4 linked regions of the Homo sapiens genome follow. The protein of the gene in region 3 purifies or fractionates together with the protein of the main gene of each other region. This does not show direct contact. Each region holds a gene or a part of one and is shown on either strand. Other genes may lie near its edges.

Region 1 (6,683 bases), on a different chromosome or scaffold from region 3:
ATGTAGCTGTAATTATTTTCAGATTGAAAGGGTTTTAGATTTGAAAACCCATAGAGAAACTTTCTACTTTGGCCTTTTTTCTTTGAGTGCTGCAAGAAATAAAATATAGCCCAACATTTATTTTTTATGATTCATTGAAACTCTAGGGGTAGAAATGGAAAGCTTTCTGTAACTACTAGTGTCCTTAGGTCAAGGCCCTCAGAAAGCGTGTGGTTTTACATTTGAGAAACCAATCCTCTTTTGTTTTACTGTATTTTAAAATAGCTTCTTACTCTGTTTTGTTGTTTATACATTGTATGTTTGGCTTCTTGAGGTCTCTGGCTCCTCAGTTTTTCCTTGGCTCATAACATAGTATCCTCATTGATCCAAGCATGACCCTGTTTTGCTTATTTTTATTTTACTTATACTAATAATATAATGAATATCCACAAATTCAGTGCCCAATGAGGCAGGAGAATCGCTCGAACCCAGTAGGCAGAGGCTGTGGTGAGCCAAGATCACGCTACTGCATTCCAGCCTGGGCAACAGTGCGAGATTCTGTCTCAAAAAAAAAAAAAAAAAAAAAAATATATATATATATATATATATATATATATATATATATATATATATCTCCAATAAGTTACATCTTATAGGCTCCTCCCAACCTGTGTCCCTGCCTCCCCTGCAGATTTAACCACTATGCTGAATTTCATGCTCTTGCATTTTATATTTGTGTATGTATCTTTAGTTTGTCTTAGGAACTTTTTAGACAAGGGTGTCACACTGTCATAAGATGTATAGTCTTCTAGTACTTGTTCTTTTTATTCAGTGTCAGAACTAAGATTCATCTACATTATTGTGTGTACCTATAGTCCATTCATTGTTGTTGTTGTATAATAGTGCATTGTATGAATGCACCACAGTTTCCCGTCTCCTATGTGAACAAGTGATAATGAAAACATTCTTTATTAACATTTTTGAGAAGCAGCAAATGTGTTGCTTTGAGAGATATTTATAGCTTTAAATGTTTATATTATGAAGAATAGCTGAAAATCAATGCACTAAATGTCCCAACTTAAAAAAAAAAAAGCACAAAAGAATAAACATCAGAAAAGAAGGAAGGAAGGAGATGAAGATCAGAAATCAATAAAATAAATAACAGAAAGAGTAGAGGATCAACAAAGTGAAATCTTGGTTCTTTGAAAATAGAAACAAAATAGACAGTTGTCTGGTGAGATTAATCAAAACAAAAAGAGAAAGAGAAAAGTACAAATAATATGAATGAAAAAGAGGTATAACTGTAGGTTCAGCAGTGATTAAAAATAATACCAACATTATACCAACAGATTTGAAAACAAGCAAAATAGACAAATTTCTGGAAAAAATATTAGCAAAGCTGAAAAATTAGAAAGTCAGAATAGGCCAGATAGTCATTAAGGAAGCTGAAGCAGCATTTAATCTTCCTCCTACAAAGAAAACACAAGAAACAGGTAGTTTTACAGGTAAGTTTCTCCCAACTGTCAAGAAACAGATTATTCCAATTTCAAACAAACTCTCCTGGAAGATAAAAAAGAGAATACTCCCCATCATCCACCAAGGTTTGAATAACTTTAATTCCAAGATCAGACTTGGGCCTTTAACATACATTCATAGTAATTACAGATACTTAGAGATCAGTGGCAAAACAGAAAGACCAAGAGGTGGTATAGCAGGGCTTTGGGATCAAGAAAGATCTGCCTTCAACATCTCAGTTGCACCTCAGGTTTCCTTACCTGTACAATTATAATACTGGACTTACAGAGTTTTCCTAAGGGTTAAAATGCATAACGTCTGGCCCAGCAAGTGAGCTGTAAGTCATAGCCATTATCATTACCATCATCAGTGTCGTCATCATCATTTAAAATCACTCAAAGGCCCACTACATAAACAATAGCCATCATGGGATTTTTTTTCCTACCTTTTTTCTATATTCGTAATTTTTAAAATTTGTTTTGCATATTTTAAATATAAGCTTATATCCTGACTTTTTTTAACCTTACAGTCTATCACATGTCAACTATATTAATCAATTTTTTTATTGTTTTTGAGGCAGGGTCTCACTCTCTTGCCCAGGCTGGAGTGCAATGGCACAGTCATAGCTCACTACAGCCTTGAACTTCTGGGCTCGAGCAACCCTCCTGCCTCAGCATCCTGAGTAGCTGGAGCCACAGGCATACACCAACACACCTGTCTTATTTTTTATTTTTATAGATACAAAAATTTGGGTCTCACCAGGTTGCCCAGGCTGGTCTCAAACTCCTGGCCTCAAGAAATCCTCCTGGTTCAGCCTCACAAAGCTCCGAGATTACAGGTGTGAGCCACTGCGCCCAGCCTCAAATATTTTTTTTAAACTAATTACATATCAAAATATTAGCAGTTTTTCTGGTAGGTATTCTGGACAATTTTTCTTTATACTTTAATGAGTGTGCGTTTCTCTTAAAGAATAAGCTTTAATATATATACACCCATAATACCTTCAAATACATTTTTAAGCACTTAAAGACTAACAGTGGTTATCTCTCAGCGGGATTATAAATGTTTTGGTTTTTTTTTTTTTTTTGTACATTTTAGTATTTTTTGAAATTTTTTTAATAAGCGTGTATTACATACAGTAAACAAAAGCACATTAATGTAGGCAGATTATCAATGTTATGCATTTCACTGATTGCATATCTCTTTTTTTATCAATGGTGAACATTGCAAATGATTGATACGTTTTTCTTAGGAAGTGGCATTGCCACAAATGGTTTTTCCAACACCAGCAGGGCCTGAGAGTGTCATCACCATACACTCTTGCCGGCAATAAGAGATTTCACCTTTTAATGATATGAGAGGGAAAAGTTGGGTGTTGGGTTCTCCAGTGCATTTCTTTCATTATGAGTGACATTTTTCTGAAAGGAACGTGATCTCGTTTTCTAGCCGCATGAAGCATTTCTCCAACAAGACCCACTGTACCAGTCCTGGGATCTCCACACCTGTGCCTTCTCCCTGCTCTTTCTAGGTCCTGATTCTCACCTCTGCCTGTGTAATAACCCTGTCATTTCTCCCTTATCCCAGTTCCATGTCTGTGACAAGCTTGGAGGCCGAGTTGCAAGCTAAGATCCAAGAGAGCCATCCTGAATTGCGACGCGTGTACTTCAATAAGGGATTGTAAAGCAGGGAGGAAACCTCTGCAGCTCATTCTGCCACTGCAAAGCTGGTGTAGCCATGCTGGTGAGAAAAATCCTGTTCAACCTGGGTTCTCCCAGTTACGGAAACCTTTTAAAGATCCACATTAGCCTTTTAGAATAAAGCTGCTACTTTAACAGAGCACCTGGCGTGGGCCAAGTGCCTGATACTCCCTTACACTGAATCATGTTATGATTTATAGAAATACCTTTCCTGTAGCTTTTATAGTCATTGTTTTTCAAAGACGATATACCAGCCCTCACCCAGGTTTTAAAAAAGCACTGGTAGGCATAGAATAGGTGCTCAGTATATGGTCAGTAAATGTTCTATTGATTATCAATCAGTGAAAAAAGAAATCTGTTTAAAATACTGAATTTTCATCTCACTCCCATTGCAAATCAAGGAGATCTCAGCAGTGAACTGGGAAAATACAAAAGCTCTGGGCTAATCTATAAAAACTTACCCTGAAATATTAAGGGCAGTTTGCTTCTAGTTTGGGGATTGCGCTAGCCCAATGAAGGTGATGAAGCTTTTGGATTTGGAGGGTAAAAGCTCCTTCACACCCCTTCCAAAAGTCAGTCACAGACCACTGCAACATGCCTTCCCTGCTGGATCATTATATACATTCAGATTGTGAGTGGATTGCCTTGGTTGACTTTTAATTTATTGTTTTTTGTTCTTATAAAGATGATAATCTTACCTTGCAGTTATTGACTTTATATTCAATTATTTACATCAAATAATGAAATAACTGAAATGTACAAATGTCAAATTTTGGAAGTATATTCAATACCAATGCTGTATGAGTGGGCTGAATCCAGTTCATTGTTTTTTTTTTGGTAAGAAGTGAGACTACAGTTCCAGCTACCTACATGTCTTTTCTTGTCATCCTTATAGATCTCTTTGGCTTTCAGAAAGATACAGTGATAATGTGTGTATGAATCAGTCACAATGAATTTTACTTGAATATTGTATGTTGCATTCCACTTCATTTGAAAATAATGAAACCATGTACCACTGTTTACATCATCTGTAGTGATTTCATAGATAATATATTTAATATGACAGATTATGTTTCAACTCTGTAGATGTTTAACGTCATAGACAGTTGGCCCTCTGTATCCGTGAGCTCTATATCTGTGAATTCAACCAAGTTTGGATGGAAAATTTTTTTTTTTTTTTTTTTTTTGAGACGGAGTCTCGCTCTGTCACCCAGGCTGGAGTGCAGTGGCGTAGTCTCGGCTCACTGCAAGCTCCGCCTCCCGGGTTCACGCCGTTCTCCTGCCTCAGCCTCTCTGAGAAGCTGGGACTACAGGCGCCCGCCACCACGCCCGGCTAATTTTTTTGTATTTTTAGTAGAGACGGGGTTTCACTGTGGTCTCGATCTCCTGACCTCGTGATCCGCCCGCCTTGGCCTCCCAAGGTGCTGGGATTACAAGCGTGAGCCACCGCACCCGGCCTGAAAATATTTTCTAAAAAGATAAAAAATATACATAACGATGAAAAATAATACAAATTTAAAAACCAATACAGTATAACAACTATTTACATAGTGCTTACATTGTATTAGGTGTTATAAGCAATCTAGAGATGATTTAGCAAGTATACAGGAGGATGTGCCTAGGTTATATGCAAATACTGTGCCATTTTATATCAGGAACTTGAGCATCTGCAGATATTGGTATCGGAGGGCGGTCCTGGAACCAAGCATCCACGGATACTGAGGGGTGACATTTCATGAAGTGTAGATCATTGTATTCAGAGATTGTAAATGAAAAAAATATAGAAACTATTTAGTTTTGGTAGATTTTTTTTCTGACAATGTGACCAGACTGAATTTCCTCATAAAGAAAAAATGGCGTGCCTTGTGTCTGTGTTTCTCTTTTCTCTGAAAGGATTAATAGATCTGAAGCTTTGGGCCACTCAGAGCCTTCCTTGATGCTGCCAGAGTCTTCTTATTTAGATTTTCTGTCTTAAACCATTGGAAGCAAAACGGTTTTCCCATGACATTCTGGCCTTGGACAGATTCTGTTGTCCTCGACGCGTCTCTTTATAAAGTGGTAAAAGCCTGAAATTCAGGGCAGCTCTCCATGAGGTGCTGAAGGGCTCTTTTCATAAGAAGCTAAGGCACTGCTGCCTGCCCCAGGTGTCCCGCTCCTCTCAGAGTCCTCCCCCTACCAGGTAGTGTGTAGCTCCATTTCAGAATGTTAACCTCCAGTGAAGAGCTAATGACTGGTTAGAAGATTGACAAACTAACCAAAATTTTACACACTCCGGTTATGTGTGTGAAAGGTTATAAAAGGAATGGCCGGGTGCGGTGGCTCACCCCTGTAATCCCAGCACTTTGGGAGGCCGAGGCGGGTGGATCACCTGAGGTCAGGAGTTTGAGACCAGCCTGGCCAACATGGAGAAACCCCGCCTCTACTAAAAATACAAAAAATTAGCCAGGCATGGAGGCACATGCCTATAATCCCAGCTACTCGGGAGGCTGAGGTAGGAGAATCGCTTGAATCCGGGAGCTGGAGGTTGCAGTGAGCCAAGATCGCACCATTGCACTCCAGCCTGGGCAACAAGAGCGAAACTCCATCTCAAAAAAAAAAAAAAGAGATTATAAAAGGGATGATGAACATGGAGCTGCATCTTTTTAAACGTTGTTTTTTGATGCTTCAGACTCTTAATGCTTTTATATAAAGCTATCAACTGTATGTTGATCACAGTTTATAAGAAAGAACAAATCAAGATTGGCAATCCTTGCCGATCTTTTAGAAATACCTTTTCTGGAGAAAAAAAAATCCACATGAAGTGCAATAAGCTTATAAAGCTAAGTAGTTATTAATATTTCTATTAACATGATACAAAGGATGATGATTGTAAGTGTTTACTGACTGGCAGCTTTTATTTCAGTATTAGCACAGCGTCTTGCCAGTGTTGGAGGCCATGTATTATTTCAGTTCAACTGGATGAAATGTTAAATAAACTCAGAATGAAAATAAATTCTCTCTTTTATTTGTACATAAAGGATAAAGCAGTTTGTGTGTTACAACTGATGGTACTTTTCATTCAAAGTTAATATCTACAGTACCATCAGCAACTCCTAATGAAAAGATATTTTTGTATTATGCCTTTAACAAGAAATATATTTCTATTTTGGGCTACCAGTCTCCCACCTTTTTGAACCTCATATACATAAAGGCACACCCACCCACCCCCCAAACTCCTATGACAATGTGATTCCAGGAATATTAATGATGGGCGTGGGGGATGGATTTCAGCTTGAAACTTGGATGGCCAACACCTCTGCACATGACGGTGATGGAAACATGCTTCTATATTATTGATCTGATTCTAACCTGGCACTGGCATTTACTAACAGAGAAAGTCTAAATTAACCTAAGTTTGGGGAGTGCCTTAATAAAAGACTTGATACAGAGCTGAGCATTTTAACTTCCTTGGCCATGTTTCTGCATTTGTTTTGCTACAGTAACTCTGTTGTC
Region 2 (4,107 bases), on a different chromosome or scaffold from region 3:
GGCATTGATACAAAATACGCTGTGTTCAAGCTATGGAGCCTGCCACTGTAGTTACTAGAGTTACGGTTCAAAGCTATTTCTGAGAGAAAGCCACTTCATCCTCAAAACCCAAGAGGCCCACTTAAAGTGATGCGAATTCTCATTTCAGGTTTTTAAATTATACTAAAAGATTCTAGTAAGAAAATTTTAATATGTATGTATTGGTGTTCTTTTTACATTTCATTTAATGAAATGTCTACTGTCAATACGATAAAGCAGAACCCAGTGGAGTAAGAATACACGAAACTGCCAGGCACAGTGGGTCATGCCTGTAAACCCAGCATTCTGGGAGGCCGAGGCGGGTGGATCACCTGAGGTCGGGAGTTCAAGACCAGCCTGACCAACATGGAGAAACCCTGTCTCTACTAAAAATACAAAATTAGCTGCGGTGGTGGTGCGTGCCTGTAATCCCAGCTACTCAGGAGGCTGAGGCAGGAGAATCGCTTGAACCCGGGAGGCGGAGGTTGTGGTGAGCCAAGATTGCGCCATTGCACTCCAGCCTGGGCAACAACAGCGAAACTCTGTCTCAAAAAAAAAAAATATATATATATATATATATATATGAAGCTGATAGTTGAATTATGTTGATTCAGGGACAAGATAGCATTGCATAGTAACTTCCAGTAGGATCAAATATTTTGAGAGTGGTTAAAACGCCAAGGAATCCTGATTTTATGAAATTATGCCTTCTGATAGGTGCAACAAAATTGAACAGAAGAGTAACAGCTTAACTAAACCTCCATTGTGTGAAAGTTTTATGAAATGTTTTGACTTTTTTTTTTTTTTCCCTAGAGAACAGGGTTCTTGCTTTGTCGCCCAGGCTGGAGTACAGCCTTGAACTCCTGGGCTCAAGCGATCCTCCTGCCTCAGCCTCCCAGTTAGCTGACACAATTGGGATGTGCCACTACTTGCTCCTGTTTTTTCATAGACGGGTCCTGCTGTTGCTCAGGCTGGTCTCGGATTCCTGGCCTCAAGCAACTTTCCTGCCCCAGCTCCTAAAGCGGCCAGGGTTACAGGTAGCCGCCTTGTCTGTCCCGTTTCGACCATATTTTATTTTTGAGAAGGTCTTGCTCTGTCGCCAGACTGGAGTGCAGTGGCACGATGATAGCTCACTGCAGCCTCGATCTCCCAAGCTCAAGTGATCCTCCCACCTCAGCCTCTTGAATAACTGGGACTGCAAGTGTGGACCACCATGTCTGGCTAATGTTTTTTATTTTTAGCAGAAATGAGGTCTTGCTATGTTGCCAAGGCTAGTCTTGAACTCCTGAGCTCAAGCGAGCCTTCTGCCTTGGCCTTCCAAAGGGCTGGGATTAGAGGGCTGAGCCACCACACTTGGCCAACCATATTTTATTTTTTATATTTTTATTTTATTTGATCCTTGTTCTGAAACCATAAAGTGAGTTTAACATTTCTGGCTGGGCACAGTGGCTCATGCCTGTAATTCTAACACTTTAGGAGACCAAGGCAGGAGGATGCCTTGAGCCCAGGAGTTTGAGACCATCCTGGACAACATAATGAGAAAAGAAAATACAAAAATTAAGGGGTGTGGTGACACATGCCTGTAGTCTCAACTATTTGGGAGGCTGAGGCAGGAGGATTGCTTGAGCCCGAGAGGTTGAGGCTACAGTGAGCCATGTTTACGCCATTGCAGTCCAGCCTGGGCGACAGAGTGAAACCCTGTCTCAAAAAAAAAGTAACATTTCTATATGATTTTTGGGATCGACATGTCCATAATGTTAATGAAGCGCATAGCAGTCACTAGTAAATTAGGAGTTATACATTGCTTCTATAGCATCAGAAATTGTATATCAGGCCAGGTGCAAAAGCTCACTCCTGAAATCCAAGCACTTTGGGAGGCTGAGGTGGGCGGATTGCTTGAGGTCAGGAGTTCAAGAACAGCCTGGCCAACATGATGAAACCCCAGGTCTCTACTAAAAATACAAAAATTGGTCAGGCATGGTGGTGCATGCCTGTAATTCCAGCTACTCGGGAGGCTGAGGCAGGAGAATTGCTTGAACCCGGGAGGCAGAGGTTGCAGTGAGCCAAGATTGTGCCACTGCACTCCAGCCTGGGCGACAGAGCCAGACTGTCTGAGGAAGAAATTGTATATCAGGCTGGGCACAGTGGCTCATACCCGTAATCCCAGCACTTTGGGAGGCCCAGGCTGGGTATCACTTGAGCCCAGGAGTTGGAGACCAGCCTGGGCAACAAAGTGAGACCCCTCTCTCTACAAAAAATAAATTAGCCAGGCATGGTGGCACGTGCCTGTAATCTCAGCTACTTAGGAAGCTGAAGGAGGATCGTCTGAGCCCAGGAGTTTGAGGCTGCAATGAGCTACAATCACACCCCTGCACTCCGGCCTGGGCGACAGAGTGATAACCTGTCTAAAAAAATAAAAATAAATTGTATAATCATATTGCAATTTTCTTTGCATTACTGATGAGGAAAAATCTCAAAGTAATTGTAAAAAATCCTGGATATCACATAGTTGAGAAACAAAGTTATTTTAAACTTACAGGACTCTGTAGTTCACAGTTGAACACTGTGGCTTCCTGAAATATCAAAGAATAATGTACATTAATAAGCCAGCTACTATCGGCATCTTGTAAAAATTAAAAAATTAAACATAAATAAAAGTTCAAACTATGTGTTGAATCATTTGTCTTTTACAAGCCAGCCCTGACTTCACATTCTCAGAGGTGTTCATAGAAGTGCATGAGATGTTAACCTCACCACTGATAAGGTTTATGAATCTCCTGGTTATTAAGGTGTGACCTGACAAGTTTCCTAGAAAGCAGCTATTCCAGAGTTTTCATGTGTGTTTTTATAGACACTGAAGTGCAGTATGCAATAGTCACTTAATAAGTATTGCTACACTGAATGAAAGAGCCTTGGGGATGTGTCTCTTACACAAGATATAATTCCTACCTAATACTGTGAATAATAATTTGATGTTCAAATCAGCCAGCTTGCTTTGCAGAATCCAGTGTATTGCAAAGTTTGAAGATGGAAAATAATTCATGTGACAGGCCATATCATTATTCCAAGACCCATGATCTTAACACTAGAGGGCTATATTAGTCAAGGTTAAAACTGCTAAATCTCAAGGAAGCATTAACATCTGAAAATATGGTATACCCAACTTTTACTCATGGATAAGTTTGACGGTAAAATGTCATTGTACTTGATGTTAATAGGTTATTGGGAACTGTTACGTTAAGTGAAATCACAAATAATGAAACTATTTTTACCACAGCCTAGTTGATATAAATGAGTTAAGTTCCTACAACATATTTCTGGTCACGAAAATATAACCAAACTAATAAAGACCAAAACAATTCTAATATTAAGCATTAAATAAATATGAGCTATACATGCATTTAAGGAAGATTATGGTCGGTCGCGGTGGCTCACACTTGTAATCCCAGCACTTTGGGAGGCCCTGGCAGGTGGATCATGAAGTCAGTAGTTCGAGACCAGCCTGGCCAACACAGTGAAACCCCCATCTCTACTGAAAATACAAAAATTCACTTAGGCATGGTGACGGGCGTCTGTAATCCCAGCTACTCGGGAGGCTGGGGCAGGAGAATCGCTTGAACCCAGAAGGCAGAGGTTGCAGTGAGCCGAAATCGTGCCACTGCACTCCAGCCTGGGTGACAGAGCTAGACTTCGTCTCAAAAAATGAAAAAAAGACTTCCTCTCAAGCTTGGCGTTTGGTCGATGGGGACCCACAGAGGAAGCAAGTTGGCAGAGTGAGGTGGGTCTACGGAGAAACAGGAACAACTCCCAAGATCACATGGCTCCTGAGGTAGAGAAAGTGCCTCTACTGACGCTGGCCGTTTGTTCCAGATCCCAGGAGGACGCGTTATACCACAATTCTTTTGGGGGGATGCTGGTGAGATACTTATAAGAAATCCTCTTCTTTCTTTCCTTTTCTTTTTTCTTTTTTTTTAGACGCAGTCTCGCTTTGTCACTCAGGCTGGAGTGCAATGGCGCAATCTTGGCTCACTGCAACCTCCGCCTCCCAGGTTCAAGCGATTCTCCTGCCTCAGCCTCCCGAGTAGCTGG
Region 3 (9,744 bases):
TGGATCTTTGGACTCACAGGGATATAGTAAGAAGAGGGCATGCATTTGCTTAACTAGTAATTATTGAGTGGTTATTATATATTAGGAACTGGAAAAAGAAAGATAAATATTACAAGACTCCTGCCCTGGAGGAAGTCAGTTTATTCATTTGCGAAATCCTTATCATGGTCTCATTATATAAAGGAACAGTGTTAGAAACAAAGCTAGCAGAAGGGAGAGAGCAAGACTGACCGGACACTGCCACCCCAAAGCTCATAGTTTAGTGGGAGATACAAACAGATGAACCTGAAGGTAGAGTGATGTGCTGCATAACAACATTTTGGTCAACAACAGGCCACAGATACAGTCATGGTCCCATAAGATTATAATGGAGCTGCCTTTCCAAGTGTACCTTTTTTTTAAAAAAAAATCTTTTTCTCTAAATTTCTTTTTTAGAGACAGCGTTTTACTTTGTCACCCAGGCTGGAGTGCTGTGGCATGATTATAACTCACTGCAGCCTCCAGCTTGGAAATCCTGGCCTCAAGCATCCTCTTACCTCAGTCACTTAAGTAGCTAAGACTACAAGTGTGTGCCACTGTGCCTAATTTTTGAAAAAATAGAGATAGGGGGTCTCGCTACATTGCCCAGGCTGGTCTCGAACTACTGGCCTCAAGTGATCCTCTCACCTTGGCCTCCCAAAGCCTTGGGATTATAGGCTTGAGCCGTTGCACCTGGCCCCATTTTTAAATCTTTTATACCATATTTTTACTGTAATTTTTCTATGTTTAGATAAACAAATACCATTGTGTTACAGTATTCGGTACATAATATGCCATACAGATTTATAGCCTAAGAGCAATAAGTCATACCATATAGCTCAGGGGTGTAGTAGGCGATACCATCTAGATTTCTGTAAGTACTTTTTTTTTTGAGAGATGGAGTCTCACTTCATCGCCTAGGCTGGAGTGCAGTGGTGAGACCTTGGCTCACTGCAACCTCTGCCTCCCAGGTTCAAGTGATCCTGCCACCTCAGCCTCTCAAATAGCTGGGATTACAAGCATACACCACCATGCCCAGCTAATTTTTGTATTTTTGGTAAAGATGGGGTTTCACCATTTTGGCCAGGCTGGTCTTGAATTCCTGACCCAAGTGATCTCCCTGCCTCTGCCTCCCAAAGTGCTGGGATTACAGGTGTGAATCACTACACCCAGCCTTTAGATTTGTGTAAGTACATTCTATGAGGTTCACACAATGATGAAATTGCTTAAGAATGCATTTCACAGAACATGTGCCCCTGTTGTTAAGTGATGCTTGACTGTACATTACAGTGTATTAAGGGCTTTCCAGTGTGCTGTGGGAGTGACCTATTGCAGACCTTGAAGAGCCTGGGAATACATCCCAGAGGAGGTGACATGTAAGCGGAGATCTGCAGTAGGTATTATTAATCAGGGGAAAGGAAGTGTACAAGCCAGAGAGAAATGTTGAAAGACCTAGAGGTGAAAGAAAATATTCCATATCTGTAAGTAGAGTGAAGTCTGAGGGAAGTATTCAGAGATGAGAAGATTCATGTAGTTGGGGATAGGTTTGAGTGAGGCTAGATTTGAAAACCAATTGGAAAACCAGTTGGAAGGCTGATGCAGTAATCCAGATAAGAGATGATGACTTAACAAGACATGGCTGTGGGGATGCTATGGTACTTCGCGCTAATCAGAATGGGGTTGAGTGTGGGTAGCAGCCATTCCCTGTTTCTCCAGTTGTAATTTGTCTATCTTGATCTTTAGTGTGATTGCATCAGGCGCCCTTTGAGGCCAGGGCAATACAGCACCATCTCTGAAGTAGCTTTGCAATCTGGAAGGGGTACAGTGTCCCTTCCCTCAAAGGCTGCTGAGCGGGTGGTGGGCCGATGGCTCCTGGTCTGCAGTGGAACAGTGGCTGGAGCAGTTATTCTTGGTGGAGTAACTAGGTAAGTAATTTGCTCGTAGTGAGTCAGGTATTTGGATCATCAGTAGAAGCACAGGTTGACTGAGGAGAAAGGATTTTTTTTTTTTTTTTTTTTGAGACAGAGTCTTGCTCTGTTGGCCAGGCTGGAGTGCAGTGGTGTGATCTCGGCTGACTGCAACCTCCGTCTCCTGAGTTCAAGCGATTCTCCTGCCTCAGCCTCCCAAGTAGCTGGGACTAGGCGCGTGCCACCATATCTGGCTAATTTTTTGTATTTTTAGTAGAGACAGGGTTTCACCATGTTGGCCAGGCTGATCCAAACTCCTCACCTCAGGTGATCTGCCCACCTCGGCCTCCCAAAGTGCCAGGATTACAGGCATGAGCCACCATGCCCAGCTGGAGAAAGGAATTTTACAGAGCATCTAGTCTAGCTCCCTCATTGTATAGATGGAGAAACCGAGGCCTTAAAGAAGGAACATGTCTGATGGCTTGCCCTGCCATAGAACAGTTGAGTGTTTTATTAGTAGGAGCCTTCTATAAAGACTGGTTTATGTCTTAACTGGTACCTGTGCATTGTTTATGTATCTTTTCTCTTTCAATCAGAGTCCAAGTTTGTCTCAAAACTTTTTTTACAGTTTGTTTGAATTAAACCCAAAGAAGTTCTGTACATCACAATTGGTTCATGTTTCTTAGGTTTGTTTAAATCTATCAAGAGACTATAGATTTAGACACTCCTCCCTTTCCCCCTCTTCTAGTTGCTGAGGAAACTCTAGTCATTTGTCCTATGGTTATGCACAGTTTAGATTTTGCTGACTGCATAACTGTGTGATATTTAACATGTTCCTTTGTCCCGTCTATTTCCTGTGAATGAGTAGTTGGTTGATCAGATTCAAATTAGGGATGAGGGAGCAAAATACTTCAGTAGGTGAATAGAACATTCGTGAATATCTGGTGTCTATTATAGATGTTAACAGCCATTAATTACCATTGCCTAGATCCATTATTTCATTAGCGTAGCAAAATTATAATATTTTATTAGCTCAACTCTAAAAAGCTTTCCCTCATCATCAGTTTGGATATCCCAAGGTATAGTTTGTATAGGAAAGGCAGGATACATACTTGATTCTTCTTTCCCTTTATTTACCAATTTTCAAAATAATAAATTGGTCCCCCAAATCCTCCAAAGGCAACAAATAAAGGATTTGAATTTTTAAGGCTCATTATGAGATCATAGGTTCAAACACACTCGATAATGTTTCGGTCCGTTGTGATGATGGTGTTAGTGATTTGCTCAGATTGTCCCATCTTTAGTCAGTGGGCATCTCCTGAAATTGGCTCTAGTGACTTTTTGGCAGGGCCCTAATTACCTTTGATAGTTTCCTTACTTTCTAGTATGACAAGATGTTCCGAGCTCATCTTGTGCATTTCTTGCCTCAGGCCTAAAATCAGGCTTTTACTCTAGGAATCCTAATTCCTTTTGGTAAAAAAGTTTCTAGTTTTAATCAAATGTGTCTTCCTCAAATTCTCTTCACATTCCACGTCCCTTATTTCAAAATACCTTATGTGTTATATAGGTTGTTATGAGCAAGTGAAACAAATTTGAATTTTATTGTCTTTAAATTCACCCAAGAATCTAAACCTGTATACATGTAACAGGTCTCTTTTCCCTGGGTAAGGAATGTTGGTTATGCATTTAGAACACATTTCTTTGGCTGTAGGGGTTGATTTTACCTGTTGAGGAATGCTAGTGAAAGGAAGAATTGGGAAAAAAAAAAGAATTGGGGAGAGTTGAATAAAAGGATTGAGAGAATATAAGGGTAAATAAATTTGTACCTGATGGCAGCTGTTTCTGACAAAATTCCAAGCAGTAACAGAGAAATGTCTCAAAAGAGGAAACAAGGAAACAATGTGTTTACCTTTAACAAGGTTAAGTTCAGATCCACTTGTTGCTATAAACCTTTTGTGAGTAATCCAGCCTCACGCATACACCCCAAAATTTCTTTCCTATCCTAAGGTTGACAGAGTCTGGCCTCTCGATGGTAGATTGGCATTTAATAAAGGAGATGAAGCCACCTACAAGCCAAGAGGAATGGGAAGCAGAATTCCAAAGATACCAGCAATTTCCAGAATTTAAAATGTAAGTATTAGAGAAAATTAGGTAAACATCCCAGTAGGCCCATTTGATCTTTTGGACTTAAACCCTTCAGAATGGTTAGATTATTTCATGAACTTCGGTTCAGTTATGTTTAGTCAGCTTGTCTTCTAAGCCCCCAAATCCAAAGTCATCCTGAGGTCGTTGATGAGGAAGAGGGCAGACCTACCAAGTTGCAGGACTGAGAAAGAAAGGTTTTGCATTCCGTAAGAAAATAAAAATCAGAAGGATGTTTCCTCCTCCTCCTTTTTTGACTTTCCATTTCACCCAGCTTGAATCATGATATGACACTGACAGAATTCAAGTTCATCTGGTACATGGAGTACTCACACCGAATGTGGGGTCGCCTTGTAGGCCTTGTGTACATCCTGCCTGCTGCCTACTTTTGGAGAAAGGGCTGGCTCAGCCGTGGCATGAAAGGACGTGTTCTTGCCCTCTGTGGCCTCGTCTGCTTCCAGGTAAGATTTATTCAAGGTTGAGAAACCAGAAATGCTCCCAGGAGCTTCCTAGTTGGCATTGTTTTTTTTTTTTTTTTTTTGAGACGGAGTCTCGCTGTGTCGCCCAGGCTGGAGTGCAGTGGCGCGTGATCTCGGCTCACTGCAAGCTCCGCCTCCCAGGTTCATACCATTCTCCTGCCTCAGCCTCTCGGTAGCTGGGACTGCAGGCACCTGCCACTATGCCTGGCTAATTTTTTGTATTTTTAGTAGAGACGGGGTTTCACCATGTTAGCCAGGATGGTCTCGATCTCCTGACCTCGTGATCTGCCTGCCTTGGCCTCCCAAAGTGCTGGGATTACAGGTGTGAGCCACTGCGCCCGGCCCCTAGTTGGCATTCTTTTTAAGGAAATAATCTCTGAGGCACTTTAATAGAATAGGTAAGAGCATGCATTTTAGTGTCACAGGCCTAGCTTCAAGCCCCAGCTCTGACACTTAGGGTAAATTACCTAACCTCTGAAAGCTATGATTTCTTTACCTGTAAATGGGGATAATAACAGTGCCACCATGTACAGTCGTGTAAATATTAAATGAGATAATCCATATTTAAAGTACTTAGCTTAGTGCCTGGAATCAGTAAAGCACTCAGTAGTATATTTTCATGTGCTGCAAGATGTAGTTTGTTTCCCATCATGGGTGTCTCCCTAGGTTCTTGTCTCTCCTCTTTTTCTAACTTGTCTGCTATAGGAAAGAGGGATCCCTGTGCTAGAATGCCACAGAAGCATACAGGAAAATTCCAAAAGAGAGAAACACTTTGTGGGATGAAGGATTGTAGAATACCCATGTAGCTGAGAGATATTCAGATATAAATGGCAATTAAAATCACGTAAGTTGAGCGCCTCTTAAGGAAAGACTCCCACAGTTAACAGGTTAGTACTGCTAGAATGATGAAAAAAAAAAAGTTGGGTGAAACTGAGCAACAAATTAAAAGAGAAGACACATAGGAGTATTTGGGTCAAGGTTTAGAGATCCTAAAGGAGATTATCAGGGCATCAAAGAAACATCAAAATTTAATCAGGAGGAAGCTAATTGGTTAATTTAACTCAGAAGTGGTAAGAAAATGAGTCAGTTAGAAGGGATTAAGGCCGGGTGCAGTGGCTCACACCTGTAATCCCAACACTTTCGGAAGCCAAGGTGGGGGATCAGGAGTTCCAGACCAGCCTGGCCAACATGGTAAAACCCTGTCTCTACCTAAAATACCAAAATTAGCTGGGCATGCTGGCGTGGGCCTGTAGTCCCAGCTATTTCGGAGGCTGAGGCAGAAGAATTGATTGAACCGGGGAGGCGGAGGTTGCAGCGAGCTGAGAGGTTGCACCACTGCACTCCAGCCTGGGCAACAGAGCAAGACTCTGGCTCAAAAAAAATAAATAAAGAAAGAAGGGATTAAGGAGGGAGATGAGAGAGAAGAAATAGAGGCAGCAGAAACAATAATCAAAGTCTAATAGTAACCAGAGAAAGGCATGTAGAACAAAATGAAAGTTAACATTTTAGAATTAGAAAAACAAGCCAACACTGAAAACACTATTAGGGAGGCAGAAATTAAAGATGTCAGATAAGGTATGGGAGAAGAAAGTGGGCTAGTGAATCAACTGTGTACGTCTTCATCTTTCAATGTCTCTTGCAGATGAAATCAAGGTAATTAGAATATCCAGGGTAATCTTGAAAGGGGAGAGAAATGCCCAAAAAGATTTCCTGAAGAGTATATATTTAGAAGTGGCAGAGTCCACCTCTTTGACCTGATTCTACTGGCAAGTGGGAGTGAAAGGGCTGTCTTATTTCATATGATTGGAACTAACAATTGTTTGGTTAATTGAAAAAGCCAGTTAAAGCAGAGAATCATAGAATATGATACATAACATAAACTTTTAAACTTAAATCTGTACGTTCATTACCAACTTTTACAAAATCAAGGCCTTTTCTTTGACTATGCGTCCCCAGATTGGCATTCAACTGCAGGTTTCTTATATCCCCATAAACTGTGGTTTTGCTTAAAGCGGAGTGGGAACTTAGATATTTGCAAAGCGATCTGCATGCAAAACCTTATTGATTTTTATGATTTTCCCCTGAAACTTTTATAATTGTCTTATTCCAACCTAACTTGACAGTAGATGTTTTTAAGCATTTACCTTTATTAAGTTTCTCCAAAACATTCAATCTAGTTTTATGAGATATATCCATGGACCTTTTTTTTTTTTTAAAGCTCATCAGCTACTGTTAGTGTTAGTGTATTTTATGCATGGCCCAAGACAATTCTTCCAGTGTGGCCCAGGGAAGCCAAAAGATCAGACACTTCTGATCTAAATAGTAGTTAAGTATTAATGGTGATATGTGAAGAACTGTGGATAAATCATGAATCTTGGGACACTGCGTATTGGGGAGGGTATGGAAAGAGGAGGGGTGGGGTAGAGAGTACTCCTGATAGCTCATTTCCTCAGTAAAGTTGAACAGATCAGGCCGGGTGTGGTGGCTTACGCCTGTAATACCAGCACTTTGGTAGGCTGAGGTGGGCGGATCACGAGGTCAAGAGATTGACACCATCTGGCCAACATGGTGAAACCCCATCTCTACTAAAAATACAAAAATTAGCCAGGCGTGGTGATGCGCAACTGTAGTCCCAGCCACTTGGGAGGCTGAGGCAGGAGAATCACTTGAACCTGGGAGGCGGAGATTGCAGTGAGCCAAGATCCCGCCACTGCACTCCAGCCTGGTGACAGAGTGAGACTCTGTCTCAAAAAAACAACAAAAAAAAGAAAGTTGAACAGATCATTTTAACCTTGTTTTGTTTGCTTCATCTCTTGGGGGTTCTAGGGTCTGTTGGGATGGTATATGGTGAAAAGTGGACTAGAAGAAAAATCAGACTCCCATGACATCCCTCGGGTCAGTCAGTACCGCCTTGCTGCCCACCTGGGATCAGCCCTGGTTCTTTATTGTGCCAGCTTGTGGACCTCACTGTCACTGCTACTCCCTCCGCACAAGGTAAGAGTTGTGTGCAAATATCTGTGTTCAAGACCCCGCTTTTGGTTCTTTTGGATATATATCTAGAAGTAGAATTGCTGGATCATATAGGAGTTGAATATTTTGCCAACATTTTCTATTGGCAAAGGTGAAACAAATTGAAAAATAGAGTGGGAGGGAGTACCAACAACAAGAAATATCCCAGTCGCTTTACCTCTGACTCCTAGAAGGGATGGTGGATGGCAAAGTGAGAAAGATCAGAACAGAGGTGTTTCTGAACTTCTGGTGTGGACAAGAGCTATATTGTTCGTTAAATGGGGACCTGCCAGTTAAGTCTAATAGTAAACCTTAGTGATTTTGTCTGAAGTATTTTTCTGTCTGCTGATTAAAGCAAAGTACTAGTTTTTCATTTTATGCTTTGATTTAAAAGCAAGGTATAACATTTTTTTGAGGCCTTCATTAATAATAGAGGTTCCAAGACACCACACCCTTATAGGACATTTTTTTCCCTAGAATTTTTTTTTAAATGAGTCTTGGCCAGGCGCGGTGGCTCACGCCTGTAATCCCAGCACTTTGGGAGGCAGAGGCAGGCAGATCACCTGAGGTTGGGAGTTTGAGACCAGCCTGACCAACCTGGAGAAACCCCATCTCTACTAAAAATATAAAATTAGCCAGCCATGGTGGCACATGCCTGTAATCCCAGCTACTCGAGAGGCTGAGGCAGGAGAATTGCTTGAATCCGGGAGGCAGAGGTTGCAGTGAGCTGAGATGGCACCATTGCAGTCTAGCCTGGGCAACAAGAGCGAAATTCCATCTCCAAAAAAAAAAAAAGAGTCTTATATTAGGTATTGAAATCATGGGTTGACCTGAGTAAGCTGTTCCTGGAGAAAAGTTTGAGATGACAGCAGGACTCTTAAGTCGAATCATCCATTAGGTACTTGGAGCTAGTAGCTAGATCCCAGTAAGGACTGGACGTGTTGTCTTGGCAGTCATTCCCACAGAGAAGCCAAATTGGGTTGAAATATTGATACAGTAGACAACCACTGAATAATTCCACATCTGAAAAATAAGGAATTATTTGAAAGTCTCCTGACTTTCAAAGCCAAACTTCATTTATTTACTTATGTATTTATTTATTTATTTGAGATGGAGTCTTGCTCTGTTGCCCAGGCTGGAGTGCAGTGGTGTGACCTTGGCTCACTGCAACCTCCACCTCCCGGGTTCAAGCAATTCTTCAGCCTCAGCCTCCCGAGTAGCTGGGACTACAGGCGCACACCACCATGCTCGGCTAATTTTCTGTATTTTTAGTAGAGACAGGGTTTCACCATGTTGGCCAGGCTGCTCTTAAACTCCTGACCTCAGGTGATCCACCCGCCTCGGCCTCCCAAAGTTCTGGGATTACAGGTGTGAGCCACCGTGCCCATCAAAGCCAAACTTCTAAAATGAATTCATTTTAATTCAGACTTCTAAAATGAATTCATCTTAATGAATTCATTTTGCCTGCATCTATAGCTGCTGCTTCCTGACAATCTATTCCTTCTTTTCAGTCCCTGTAATTATCTTCCTCACCCAACCCAATACATACACACTCACACATTTACCCACACTTACACATAAACCCACACACTCTTGCTACTGAAATTGTACTCTTAAAGGTTACTGATGACTTTATCAATTGTTTTTCTCTGTTAGTTTAGATTCACCTAATTACAAAAAGGATTTGAGATGCTACCCAATGAGCCATATAGTGCTATGCTGTCCAACACAGTAGCTACTAGCTACATATGGCTATTTAAATTTTAACTAATTAAGGCTGGGCACGGTGGCTCACACCTGTAATCCCAGCACTTTGGGAGGCTGAGGCGGGTGGATCATTTGAGGTCAGGAGTTTGAGACCAGCCTGGCCAACATAGTGAAACCCCCATCTCTACTAAAAGTTAAAAAATTAGCTGGGCAATAGTGGCGCGCACCTGTAATCCCAGCTACTTGGGAGGCTGAGGCAGGAGAATCGCTTGAGCCTGGGAGGTGGAGGTTGCAGTGAGCCAAGATTGTGCCACTGCACTCCAGTCTGGGCGACAAAGTGAGAAAAAAAATTTTTTTAATTAAATAAAATTTATTTACATAAGCTTTTTGTTTATTTAAACTTTATATTTAAATAAAATTAATTTTTTATTTAATTTTCAGTCATACTAGCCACATGTTTCAAGCTCTCCTTAGGTAGATGA
Region 4 (5,869 bases), about 92 Mb from region 3:
TTTGTTATTGTATCCTCAGAGAGTCAGAGTGCCAGTACACAGAAGAGCACCACTAAAGGCTACAGGGAGCTGATGATTAATTTTACATAGAGCAGACATTTAACCAAGAATATAGCACTTACTCCCTGTCAGATTCTCGATATTTTAAAATATTAGCTCATTTAATCCTAACAATCTTTTAATCTCCATCTTATAGATCATAAAACTGAAAGATTAAGTAACTTGCCCAAGGTCACAGCTGTTAAGGGCTGAGCTAGTATTCCAGTTCAGACACAGATTATTCTTACTTATGTTGACTGATTTCAAATTCCTGCTTTTCCTCCTTCCATGATGTCTAGGACACTCAAATCACCCTCACAAATGTGTTCTGCTCTCCTAGAAACTGGAGGTGGGTCAAGCCAAGCTTAGAAGCAAAATACAAAACAGGATGGGCATGGTGGCTCACACCTGTAATTCCAGCACTTTGCAGGGCTAAGGAGGATCACTTGAGCCCAGGAGTTCAAGACCAGACTGGGCAAAATAGCAAGACCCCATCTCTAAAAAAAAAATTTTTTTTTAAATTAGCCAGGTATAGTGGCGTGCACACACACACACACACATACACACAGCCTCCAGAGGCACGTGGTTCGTTGCTAACATTCCCAAAAGGTATCTTGTACTGGTTCACACTACACCTCCATCTGATTCCTCAGTTGTGAGCTGTTTCTTTCTCCTAGTCTCAGCCACCAACCCCTTCAGAAGTGGCTCCTGAAAACTTTGAGGGGAGTTAGAAAATGACTTTGAAGCTCTGGTCAGTTCACTGAACCTTTTTATTCATTACCACGAATATAGCTGTAAATATTTAAAGAATCCATTCTAAATACATGCATTCATTTGTTTTTAAAAGAGGAGCTTGTTAAGAATGGGTTTTATATTGTTTATAATTTTATGTATTTTGGAATTTATATATTACTTTTGTAATTAAAAAAAACCCAAAAAACTAAGTTATCAATTTTAAACAAATAGGGAAAAGCCTGAAATTTTGGCATGGCCAACTCAGAGTGTGGAGTCAACGCAGGCATCTAATCTTAATTGTGATCTAAATGTGAGTATCGTACTTTTCTCAGTGTTTAGAAAAGATGTTTTAAATAATTTAGAGTAAGTATATGCTTGCAATTTTGTATCCAGAATTCCAAGCAAATGCTTCCTGTGGCATTTTTTTTTTTTTTTTGGAACAGAGTCTTACTCTGTTGCCCAGGCTGGAGTACAGTGGCGCGATCTCAGCTCACTGCAACCTCTGCCTCCCAGGTTTAACCGATTCTCCTGCCTCAGCCTCCTGAGTAGCTGGGATTACAAGTGTGCACCATTTTTGTATTTTGTTTTGTTTTTAGTAGAAACAGGGTTTCACCATGTTGGCCAGGCTAGTCTCAAATTCCTGACCTCCAGTGATCCACCTTGAGTCTCAGTCTCCCAAAGTGTTAGGACTGCAGGCATGAGCCACCGTGCCTGGTCTTGTTGACTGTTCTTTAAGGCTGTAATAAGGCACAGAACTGGGCTGAGGCTGTGGCTGCAGCCCTTTCCCTCTACGTTGTCCCCATAGAGGCTAGACATTTTAAGGTCAGTGGAGCACTACCAAATCAAAAGAGCCTCTTAAATTGTCTTCTACTAAAAAATTTTAATAGTAGCATATTAATATTTTTAAATGTTTTAGTATCATCTCATTTCAAAAACTATATCTATTGTTCTTATATATAAGAAAAACAATGATTTTATTTTAAGTTGTTTATTTTAAGATAATTTACAAATATCTTGCTGTCTTCAGTAATTCAAATAATGGAGGAACAGTTTCTTCGGACAAAGGCAGCAGTAAGCTAAAAACAAAATCAACTGGCTGAATTTTCCTTCTTTACCTGAAAAACAAAGTACAGAACAAGTAAGAAATCAAACAGCATTTTTTGGGAAAATAATGTCAAGAGATAATAATACATATTTAAGTGGGGTACAGAGAACTGAATTTACACAATAAAGTGTTACCCTATACCAGTGATTCTAAAATTTTGGTCTGGGGAACCTTTCATGGGGTTCATGAGGTCAAAACTATTTTCATGATAATGTTATTTTGCCTGTTATATTCTCATTCTCGAGTATACAGTAGAGTTTTCCAGAGGCCACATGATCCATGACATCACAACAAAATGAATAGAGACAGATGAAAATCTAGCTGGCTTCTGCTACATGAATCAGACATTAAGGGGTCCAGAGACCATAAAGTGTGACAACCACCACTCTTCACAACCTATATATAATATCTCAAAATAATGTTAATTCTCTATCCTCAAAGTTTATTTCCTTATATCTACATTTTCTATGATCAACACACTCACTACAAAAAAGTCCACTAGCGTTGCCCAGGTGCTCCCGTGAGTTGGCTGCTACTGTGAAGTGGCCCATCCATCTAAATCTCTCAGAGGACAATTCTAGGATTACTAAATTAGCTTAACTTATATCTGAATAGGTTTCTTTTCTGAACAGACATGGGAAGAATGTGTGAACTTTACCTCTTGTCTGAGGATGGAACTTGATTTTCATTAATCCCTGGTTATTATATTAGAAGAAAAAGACAAACACAAAACAAGCAGGTCAAGAAGCAATCCATGCTAGTTAATCACATATGCTTTCCAATGAAAAAAAGTCAATTGTTAAACTTGATACCTTGAGTACATCATGCAAAAATACTTACCACAAGATTCCTTTGAAACAGACTCAATGACTGTTATAAAAAGTCATAGATTTCAATCCAGGTTAGAAGCAATAAAAACATGCTCATGCAAGTAGGCAAGACTATGAATATGTAATTTAAATTACAATTTTTCTATAAATTAACACAATATATTTAGAGGTTTTTTTTTTTTTTGGAGATGGAGTCTTGTTCTGTTGCCCAGGCTGGAGTGCAGTGGCGTGATCTCAGCTCACTGCAACCTCCTCCTGGGTTCAAGTCATTCTCCTGCCTCAGCCTCCCGAGTAGCTGGGATTACAGGTGCCCGCCACCACGCCCAGCTAATTTTTGTACTTTTTTAGTAGAGACGGGGTTTTGCCATGTTGGCCAGGCTGGTCTGGAACTCCTGACCTCAGGTGATCCACCCGCCTCGGCCTCCCAAAGTGCTGGGATTACAGGCATGAGCCACTGCGCCTGGCCATATTTAGTTTTTAGGCTGGCAACTAATACTTGGACCTCGAATACTATGGTTTACTCATGTTCTTAATTATATTACTAAATAGCCAAATATGTTTATTTTGTTTTTTGATCTTTTTCTTTTCCAAGTATGTTTAAATATTCAAGTCTTGATTCAGAATAACTGATAGGTTACAGAGCATGCAAACCCATTCACAAGCAATCCAACCTTGGCACTGCATAGCTAAGTTTTTGTATAAGGATTTAGACTACCTTCCTAGGAAGCAAAAACTTAATACTCAATTTCCAATTATGTGGATTCCTTTTTCTAAATTCTTGGTTTTGTGCAGTGGCACGATCATAGCTCACCGCAGCCTAAAACTCCTGGGCTCAAGCAATCCTCCTGCCTCAATTTCCTGAGTAGCTAGGACAACAGGCACATGCCACCAGGCCTGGCTAATTTTTTCATTTTTGTAGAGATGGGGTCTTGCTATGTTGCTCAGGCTTGTCTTGAACTCCTGGGCTCAAGCAATCCACTCGCTTCGGTCTCCCAAAATGCTGGGATTACAAGCATGAGCCAATGCACCCAGCTGTTTCTGTTACTTTTAAATAGGTTTCCTGCATTTCTTTTTTTTTTTTTTTTTTTTTTTGAGAAGGAGTCTTGCTCTTTTGCCCAGGCTGGAGTGCAGTGGCGCAATCTCGGCTCACTGCAAGCTCCGCCTCCCAGGTTCATGCCATTCTCCTGCCTCAGCCTCCATAGTAGCTGGGACTACAGGCGCCCACCACCACGCCCAGCTAATTTTTTGTATTTTTAGTAGAGACGGGGTTTCACCGAGTTAGCCAGGATGGTCTCAATCTCCTGACCTTGTGATCCGCCCACCTCTGCCTCCCAAAGTGCTGAGATTACAGGCGTCAGCCCCTGCGCCCGGCCAGGTTTCCTGCATTTCTAATGAAGAAATAGGCTGGTCCTCAATTTTGCAGAAGTTGTATCATCATAGGTCATACCTAACATTCGTTTGTCAAGAGCAAAAAAACCCCCTTGGGTTCTCTGGATCTCACACAGCCCACAAACCTTCAGAATGTGGTTCCTTCCCGCAGGCTTTGTCACACTTAAGATCCAAGAACAAATCAGCCTGGCTTTAACATGGGGTAGATGGCAAGAAGGATAATGGCTAATAGAAGGTTTTAGTCCTTGTATTAGTCCCCATGTTACAGATGACAAAGCTGAGTAACAGAGAGAGTATCCTAACCAAGTTCATCAAGCTAGACACCATGAGACAGTATTCTGTGATGCTGATAGAACATTGGTGACCAGGCTGTGAATGGGTTAGTCCTAACACAGCTGTGCTTAGAAAGTAAAATAAGAGAAGAATGCTTAGGATAGCGAGGCTGATGGATCCAACTAACAACTTACACAAAGGTCTCTGTTGGCTCAAAAAGTTCTAGTTGTGTCTCTCTGGCATTCTGCCCAGTTTCTGCCCTTGAAAAGTAACACTTAAGGAACACTTTAAATAGTGATGAACTTTTCCCTGACTCTTAAAACCATGGACCCACATTTTCATACACCCAATAAAATGTTATTTGTCCCTCTTCTGAACTTCCAGTTCTGAATACATATGGCATTTCATTCATTCATTCAACATTCACGAAGGAGGTATGTACCAGGCAATGGGGACACAAAAGTGAATAAGATATGGTCCCATCCTAGCCTCGAGGAGCACACAGACAAATAAAAAGCCAATTCCTCATACAAGGCTGTAAGAGCTAAGCTAAATGGAAGACAGGATGCTGCAGAAGGCTGCCTCACTCAGACTGAAGGAAGGAGTGTTTTCTGGAAGAAAGGATTCCCCCAGCTGAGTAAGGAAGGATACACAGGAGGCAGTCAGATGAAGAATCAAGGGAGCAAGGGAAGAAATAGTGGCTTTTCAGGCTGCAGCACATGCCACTCCCTGGCCGCGAGAAAGAGTGACGAATCTGTAGATCTGGAAGTAGATCAAGGTGGCTGAGGTTCAAGGACGTGAGAAATGGTAATGGTAAGAGACTGGACTGGGAAGAGTGCTGGTGACCAGAAAATATAGGATCACATACATCGAGTGTTTCTGCAGAATGAGTGTATAACAGAGAATGGATTTTGTTATTTTCCTCATAACACTGTCACAAGAATAGGCAAATTTTTTCGGTGAAGGGCCACACAGCAAGTATTCTGCACTCTGTGGGTCACACGCTATCACTCTCCTTTTTCTTATATCCCTTTAAAAATGCAGAACCCATTCTTAGCTCCAGGCCACAGTTTAGCAACCTCTGTTCTGCTGTGACTTCTTATTTAGTGTCTGCCTTTACTGTGAAGACTGAGCTCTCTGAAGGCAAATACTGTTACCACTGTATCCTCAGTGTCTAGCACAGGGCCTGACACTTAAGGGGCACTCAAATAATTACCTTTTTGAACCCAGGAGAGAAATGACAAGGATCTGCATTAAGTGGGCATAAAGAAGGGGGAAGATTCAAGAGATAGTTAGAAGGTAAAACTTAAAGAGCATGGTAACTGATTAGCAGGAGGTAAGAAGGAACGAGTCAAAAAGAACTTACTACACGTTTTATCTAATCACAATTACTTGTATGTTTCTTATCCTATTAGAATATAAGTGCCTTAAAAGAGAGAATCACATCCTTAACACTGTGTCTAGCACTGTACTGTGCACATAGTGGGTATTCAACTTA

Evidence for each region.
Region 1: the proteins of COX15 (region 3) and SFXN1 purify together in Homo sapiens (affinity purification with mass spectrometry; 2 studies listed by BioGRID and IntAct, with this or other methods). This does not show direct contact.
Region 2: the proteins of COX15 (region 3) and SLC25A3 purify together in Homo sapiens (affinity purification with mass spectrometry; 2 studies listed by BioGRID and IntAct, with this or other methods). This does not show direct contact.
Region 4: the proteins of COX15 (region 3) and ATP5F1C purify together in Homo sapiens (affinity purification with mass spectrometry; 2 studies listed by BioGRID and IntAct, with this or other methods). This does not show direct contact.

The regions. Positions count from the first base shown.
Region 1 is NC_000005.10:175,523,560-175,530,242, forward strand, and holds the end of SFXN1 (sideroflexin-1), read left to right. Parts: intron 1-3,078; coding exon 3,079-3,175; 3' UTR 3,176-6,183; downstream 6,184-6,683. UniProt on the Homo sapiens protein: Amino acid transporter importing serine, an essential substrate of the mitochondrial branch of the one-carbon pathway, into mitochondria.
Region 2 is NC_000012.12:98,603,686-98,607,792, forward strand, and holds the end of SLC25A3 (solute carrier family 25 member 3 isoform b precursor), read left to right. Parts: 3' UTR 1-2,682; downstream 2,683-4,107. UniProt on the Homo sapiens protein: Inorganic ion transporter that transports phosphate or copper ions across the mitochondrial inner membrane into the matrix compartment. Mediates proton-coupled symport of phosphate ions necessary for mitochondrial oxidative phosphorylation of ADP to ATP.
Region 3 is NC_000010.11:99,721,752-99,731,495, reverse strand, and holds part of COX15 (heme A synthase COX15), read left to right. Parts: intron 1-1,761; coding exon 1,762-1,943; intron 1,944-3,932; coding exon 3,933-4,055; intron 4,056-4,341; coding exon 4,342-4,528; intron 4,529-7,372; coding exon 7,373-7,540; intron 7,541-9,744. UniProt on the Homo sapiens protein: Catalyzes the second reaction in the biosynthesis of heme A, a prosthetic group of mitochondrial cytochrome c oxidase (CcO). Heme A is synthesized from heme B by two sequential enzymatic reactions catalyzed by heme O synthase (HOS) and heme A synthase (HAS).
Region 4 is NC_000010.11:7,803,679-7,809,547, reverse strand, and holds the end of ATP5F1C (ATP synthase F(1) complex subunit gamma, mitochondrial isoform L (liver) precursor), read right to left. Parts: intron 2,575-5,869; coding exon 2,568-2,574; 3' UTR 2,538-2,567; exon of another isoform or gene 2,532-2,537; intron 1,890-2,531; coding exon of another isoform or gene 1,886-1,889; 3' UTR 1,747-1,885; downstream 1-1,746.